Homo sapiens: one gene and its partner. The protein of the gene in region 2 purifies or fractionates together with the protein of the main gene of each other region. This does not show direct contact. Each region holds a gene or a part of one and is shown on either strand. Other genes may lie near its edges.

Region 1 (3,816 bases), on a different chromosome or scaffold from region 2:
CTGCAACCCCCGCCTCCTAGATTCAAGCAATTCTCCTGCCTCAGCCTCCTGAGTAGCTGGGATTACAGGCATGTGCCACCATGCCCAGCTAATTTTGTAGTTTTAGTAGAGACAGGGTTTCTCCATGTTGGTCAGGCTGGTCTCGAACTCCCGACCTCCTTGGCCTCCCAAAGTGCTAGGATTACAGGCATGAGCCACCGCGCCCGGCTGCTACAAAAATTTTTTAAAAATTAGCCAGGCATGCCAGGCGCGGTGGCTCCCACCTGTAATCCCAGCACTTTGGGAGGCCAAGGCAGGTGGATCACGAGGTCAGGAGTTTGAGACCAGCCTGACCAACATGGTGAAACCCCGTCCCTACTAAAAATACAAAAATTAGCCAGGTGTGGCGGCACATGCCTGTAATCGCAGCTATTCAGGAGGCTGAGGCAGGAGAATTGCTTTAATCCAGGAGCCGGGGGTTGCAGTGAGCCGAGATTGCACCACGGCACTCCAGCCTGGGCAACAGAGTAAGACTCTGTCTCAAAAAAAAAAAAAAAAAAAAAATTAGCCAGGCATGCAGCGCACACCTGTAGTCCCAGCTACTCAGGAGGCTGAGAAGGGAGGACCAATTGAAACTGGGAGGTCGAGACTGGGAGGTCATGATCACGCCACTGCACTCCAACCTGGGCAACACAGCAAGACCCTGTTTAATAATAATAATAATAAATAATGCAAGTGGGTATAAGAATTTATTTATTTATTTATTTATTTATTTATTTATGAGACAGGGTCTCACTCTGTCGCCCAGGCTGGAGTGCACTGGCGCAATCTCGGCTCACTGCAAGCTCCGCCTTCCGGGTTCATGCCATTCTCCTGCCTCAGCCTCCCGAGTAGCTGGGACTACAGGCGCCCGCCACTGCACCCAGCTAATTTTTTGTATTTTTAGTAGAGACGGGGTTTCACCATGGTCTCGATCTTCTGACCTTGTGATCTGCCCGCCTCGGCCTCTCAAAGTGCTGGGATTACAGGTGTGAGCCACCGCTCCCGGCCCTAAGAATTTATTTTATCCCAGCACTTTGGAGGCTGAGGCGAGTGGATCACGAGGTCAGAAGATTGAGACCATCCTGGCTAACATGGTGAAACCCCGCCTCTACTAAAAAAATACAAAAAATTAGCCGGGCGTGGGGGCGGGTGCCTGTAGTCCCAGCTATGCGGGATGCTGAGGCAGGAGAATGGTGTGAACCCGGGAGGCGGAGCTTGCAGTGAGCGGAGATCGCGCCACTGCACTCCAGCCTGGGCAACAGAGCGAGACTCCATCTCAAAAAAAAAAAAAAAAGAATTTATTTTAAGACAGCAAGCTCTAGGGTTGAAGCCAGTCTCCACCTAGCCCCAGGCCCAAAGCTATAAGCATGGCTACTGTAACATCTTTACTCAGGACACCACCCTTCAGGGGCCCAGACCCACACCATCAAGGAGGAGCGTCCACACCAGCAGCTGGGGAGAGGGTGGTTCCCTACAAGATGCAATGTCCACTCTGAAGAGCCATTATAGTGATAATCATGAAATCCATGCCTGAGATCTAATTTCAAGTGAAAAGAACAGAATTCAACATTCATTCTATGGGGAGTATAAAACTCTGAAAATATACGCCTTTCATAATTAAATCAAACCCTATGTCATGTTCCTGAGGAGACAAGCACTGAATGGAACACAGAAGAAATGCTACAGCCAATGATTGTTGAAGTTTTCCTTTCAATTTCCTGTTCATGTTGTTTGGCAATAAGTAATACAGAAAACTGACAACAAAAAGCAAAAGAGAAAGAAAAGATACAGTGTACAGTTTAGATTGCTTTCCTTAAAAAATTAAATAATAATAATAAAAAGCATAGGCCGGGTGCGGTGGCTCACGCCTGTAATCCCAGCACTTTGGGAGGCCAAGGCGGGCGGATCACCTGAGGTCGGGAGTTCGAGACCAGCCTGACCAACATGGGGACACCCCGTCTGTACTAAAAATACAAAATTAGCCGGGCATGGTGACGCAGGCCTGTAATCCCAGCTACTTGGGAGGCTGAGGCAAGAGAATCGCTTGAACCCGGGAGGTGGAGGTTGCAGTGAGCTGAGATCGCGCCTTTGCACTCCAGCCTGGGCAACAAGAGCGAAACTCCATCTCAAAAAAAAAAAAAAAAAAGCATAAATGCAAGCTGGGCGCGGTAGCTCATGCCTGTAATCCCAGCACTTTGGGAGGCCGGGGCAGGTGGATCACCTGAGGTCAGGAGTTTGAAACCAACCCGGCCAACATGGCGAAACCCCATCTCTACTAAAAATACAAAAATTAGCCAGGCATGGTGGCGCGTGCCTGTAATCCCAGCTATTCAGGAGGCTGAGGCAGGAGAATTGCTTGAACCCAGGAGGCAGAGGTTGCAGTGAGCCAAGATTGAGCCACCACACTCCAGCCTGGGTGACAGAGTGAGACTCCGTCTCAAAAACCAAACCAAACCAAACCAAACAAAACAAAAAAAAGAAGCGGCATAATACAAAGTCCCGGCAGTTAAAGCGTTAACCCCCAGCTACCAGGAAGGCTCTGCTATCCAATGACTCATCGCCCCAGCCAAGGTCAGCCACACCTTGGGTCTCTGATGCTGGAGGCAACATGATGCCAACACTGGCGAGAAATCCACCACCTCCTCCTCCCCGCCCCTCGGTGCCGGCCTCTGTGTGCACTTGCAGCTCTTCCACTACCGGTGCCTCCATGGTGTCTACGCCACCGGCTCACCTCCCAGCAATAACCCGACAGCCCGACACCTCTGTAGACCCTGTGGCTACAGAGCTAAAGTTCCCTGTTATTAGTGGGTTTTGCAGACAACCCTCCAAATCCCTCTGGGTTGAGTTAGTCAAGTCCTTAACAAGCTGGAAGATGACAGGGGTTGGATGTAACCCACTTCCAACTGGCTTGGGTTACATGGACATTATTCCTCTTCTGGGATCTGATTTGGGATGGAAACAGGAGCCATAGTTCATGGGAAGGCTGTGAAAGGAAGCCCCGGCCCCAGGGTGCGGATCAGGTTGATCTGCGGAACAAGGCCCCAGGGGCGGCCCACCCGCCTGCTCTGCCCAGCCCTTCCTGGTAACCACACTCACCCGGGGCCCATCTCAAACCTGGCAGGCAATGCTGCTGCTCCCATCTCAGCCGCTGCCCCAACACGCCTCGCCTGGCCAGGACAGGTGCCCAGGCATGGCATTCAGGGACATCCTCGGCTTCCGGGGCCCAACCCCTGGTTCCCAGGTGCAGCGCTGGGAAAAGCAGAGGGCCCCGGCCATGGCGCAGGCCTCGTCACAGGTCATTTAAGCAGCCTGGGAGGAGCCGGAAAGAGAGCAATGCACCCACCTGGACAGAGACTGAAGCCACATCCCCATTGAGAAAAGATGACACTCCTGCCTGGACCCCTTCTCTGAAACCCCAGGCCGGGGTGGGGTAGGAGTCAGCGAGAGAGTCCAGCGCTCCAAAGGGGACTTTCTGGCCCTCCGTGCCCCCTAACCCAGCACTTCTGGGGACCCACACACTCAGGGCAGAGTGGCCATCCAGGGTTCCTCTCACCCAGACACAAAGGCCACTGAAGGCCCCGGGCCAACACCGCTCTGAGGATGACCAGCGACTTGAGTTCCTGCCAGAGACAGCAGGCAGCCTGGGTCTAAGGGCCGCCCAGTGACTTGAAGCTGGGATCATCTTACATTCCCTGCGCCACTCCTGTTTCCTGTCCTGGAGGTTTTCAGGCTGCCAACAGTCATGCTTTGGAGAACCAGGTCAGATTAGGCTGGGAACAAAGCTCAGCTGTCACA
Region 2 (3,816 bases):
TTATGTAATGCATTTGATTAAAAAATATAAATAATTTTTTTAATTAAGAAAGTCTCAGGAACACAGAAGTGGTAAGAAGAATTTAACATCATTTAAGAATATCAAATTAATCCCAATTAAAAAAAATCATCCTTTACATCAGCATTCCATAAAGCAGACTCACTGTGAGTTAAAAAATTTTAAATGCTCACTGGAAGGATTTCTCCAGCTCTCTGCATTAGAACTGGTGTTTCCATCTGAAAAATCAGACTCAGAGAAACCTTCTTTTTCTTCCTCTTTCTCTTGTTTCATATATGGCGATGCTAGAGTCAATTCAACTTTACTTGTTTTTGTAGAGTTTTCTTTGTTCATCAGGAGAGGAATGGGTTGCCTATTTCTGGACACACTAATTGCTTCAGAAGCCTCTCCAAAGCCAGGTTCCTGAAGAGTCCCTTGTCCCCCTGCAACCCCACTTTCACTGTCCCTGTCCTCTGGGGGGGTTACAGTTTTAATGGTCCCTATTTCATGAGCCACATAAAGTTGTGGGGTTCTAGGGATCTCAACTCCACTTCTGGAACCACAAAAATCTACCAATAAATCAGTCACAAGTGCGTCTCCTCCCAACATTTTATCACATTGGTTGACTTGAGATTCCAAACCATTACTTTTATCCTTCATTTCAGAGGTCTGTGAGGCTGCCCTGTAAAAATGGGGCACTGTCCCCAAGAACCTGGTCTGCTCTGACTGTGAGGACTCCTTCTCGTGAGTTTCTTCTCTCACTGACACCTGGGGCTGATAAGGAGGAGCTTCAGTTATTTCTTTAAGAAGTTTCTCAAAACCAGCATCAAAAGCACTCTCAGTTATTAACGGAGCCTCGGCCTTTTCTACTGTTTCTTTTAATTCCTCAGGATGGCATTCAGAAGTGGCTCGCCTGGGCTCCTCTGTACTACCTATTAACTTTGATGGAGAAAGATTCCCTGTATCACTTTCATATTTTGAGGGGAAGGTTTCAGTTTCTTCCTTCAGTAGTTTTTCTAAGCCAGCACTGAATTCGAGGAACTCTGATTTGGGTTGAACAATTGTTTCCCTCACAATTTCTTCCACTTCCTGAGGGAGGCCTTTGCCATATTGAGCAACAATGGAAGCAAATGAGCTAAGCGTCTGGTCTGATGGAGACATTTGGGCAGCTAAATAAGATCCAACTTCATGAGTTTTATCAGGAACTACATTGGAGGAATAAAAATCCTTCCTGTCTGGAACTATGGTGTCCATCGTAGCCCATGGTGATATCACTCCTGGAGGATTTAGGGGGCTACATACTGGCTGTACTGCTTCAGGAAATTCTGGGTTCACTTCTCCAGGACCTACTTCCCTTCCAGCTGGATAACTTAACCATACTTCTCCACACAGCTTCTGTAATGCAGCACTTACATCATTCAATACAGGTCTGGGTGGAAGAATGACTTTCTCTACAGTCTCCGAAATTTCCGTTTGAGAAGGGTGTACCCTAGCCTGGGGAACAAGATGAGCATCCTGGGGAAAAAGCATATCTTGGGGAGGGCTGGCCACATCCCCAAAAGAACCCTTTCTGGAAAGCTGGGAAGTTGGATCCAATGGATGAGAATCTTCTGCAGCCATCTGAATCAAATTCTGTGTGCTTAGCTGGCACTCACCACTTTCAGCTTTCTTGAGGAGAGCTGTATTTCCAAAAGTTTCATCTCTCACTGGAAAAGGAGCTAGTATTTCTCTCTTATCAGCTGAAGTATTGTGACTCTGTTCTATCCCTTTTCCAAAAAATCTCCCCTCTTCCAGCTTAGAGTTGGTTCCAGTGATAACAGGCGCCAACTTGGCTTGCAAGGGAGAGGGTGAAGTTCCAGTTGCTTCCTTCAGGAGTTTGTCTAGACTAGCAGTCAAAGAGTTCCGTTTAACCTTTGGATGAACTACTGTTTTGTCAACATGCTCATTAATGATCTTCTCAGGTCCTTTGACTTCTTCCTCAGTATCAGCAAAATCTGTTTTTTGAGGCCATGTCCTATTTTCAGAAACACTTGGTTCAAGCACTTGTTTTCCATGAACTTTTCCACCAGAGGGTTGAATTGCTGGTGTTGAGGTTTCTGAAAGCAGTTTCTGCAAGCTGTCATTAAAAGTGTCTTTGCAGTCTTTAGACAAAACATTGGTTTTTATTATGGATTCTTGAATCTCTTGTTCTGAGTAATCCTTTTCTTCCTTAAACACTGGAGTAACAATCCCTTCCGTATTCTTTTCCACATTTTCCTTTGATGACTCATTTCCTGGCAACTGATAAGTATACTTTCTAAGTGGACTCAAAGGAAATGTGATTTCATCTGGTAGCACCTGGAGTATGCCCTTTGAATTTAATTTCTCCATTTCCTCTCTTGCCATAACTTTTTTTGGGCTTAGAAGCACCTCTGCTTCATGGGTATTTTTACCTGATAATTTAATGTCGCTGAATTCCTTGTGTTTCTGCCTATTAAAAGGTGCAGAATTTTTTTGGCTTGTGGTGGTAATATTCTTGTCATTATCCTTACTGTTTGAATTAGCTTCTAAGTCCCAAAACTTTCTCAAATTCTCAAACTGAGAGGGATTATAGACCTGTTCTGCATTGGGTTCATCCATTCTTTCTTTTAGGGACATAACTTTAAAGTTGGCATTTGATTCACGAACTAGAGGTCTGTCTTTCTCCAATGGAGCATGTCGTTCACTCCCGACATTTGAGGGAGGTTGCAGTGCTGGTAAAGTAATGTTTCTTCTAGAAGGCAAACTGTCTGCCACTTGTGATCTTTTTATAGGCTCATTTTTCTTATTCTGAAACAGAGACACTTTATCTGATTGCTCAGCTGAAAGATAGTATCTGGATGGACCTGCTATTTGTGGCTTGGTCTCTTTAGATTTATTTGAGGAATAAGAATTGGAGAGCTGGGATGCTTGATCATCCTCATCTAAGACCACTCGTTTGGGAATGGCCTGATTATATTCACTCTGGTCTGTAGATAAACTGTCCATGGATGATACACCCTGTGACTTCTTCACAGGCTGATATGCTTTAGCAGAAGGTTGTTCCTGGCTACATGAAGATGTGGGTTTTTCATGAGTTATCTTAGCACCAGCTTTCTCTCCTTCCCAAAAGGATATTCTGTCACTCACTCTTTTGTATTTCTCTCTCTGCACTTGGTTCTTGGGAACCTCACCAGCTTCTTGCTGGAATTGGACCTCAGGCTTCTTCCAAGGAGAGCCATTGTTGGCAACCCCAGGTGTTGACTTAATATTCTCTGGCTCTAAGGAGGCTTTCAGGATATAGGTATTTCCTACTTTGCTCTTTCTCTCTGCATTCATGTTATCTTTCAAACCTGGTTCTTTGACAACTGTTGAAGAGTCAAAATTCACTTCTGAGTGTCCTCTATTTTCTTCATGAGCATGAAACTTGGGTTCTTCTTCACCCAAGTTGCCAATATTATTAGTGTTGCATGGAACTTGGTTTTCTGCATCAGATTCCTTGAGAACACTGTAGGAATAGTTACTATTTGAAGGAGATGCCCCATTCCCTTTTCCTGGGCTTTTTGAATCTTGGCTATAGTCCATATTTTTACTCCCTTGACTTGGGGTGCCATAGCTTTCAAATGGTTGCAATATACCTGGGCCTTCCTTTGGGGTGCCTTTTTGGGACAAATTCATGAATTTGGATTTGATATTCACATTATTATCTTGGCAACTTTCAGAAACCAGCATATCTCCCTCTGCTTGGAATGGTGAGTCAGATCTCACAGGCTTCAATTCAATTTTGCTGGGTGATAGGGTCTTTGAGCCATTTTCTCTTAA

Evidence for each region.
Region 1: the proteins of SYTL2 (region 2) and SEPTIN9 fractionate together in Homo sapiens (co-fractionation; one large-scale study listed by BioGRID). This does not show direct contact.

What each region holds. Positions count from the first base shown.
Region 1 is NC_000017.11:77,287,759-77,291,574, reverse strand, and holds part of SEPTIN9 (septin-9), read right to left. Parts: intron 3,641-3,816; exon of another isoform or gene 3,365-3,640; intron 1-3,364.
Region 2 is NC_000011.10:85,723,841-85,727,656, forward strand, and holds part of SYTL2 (synaptotagmin-like protein 2), read right to left. Parts: coding exon 192-3,816; intron 1-191.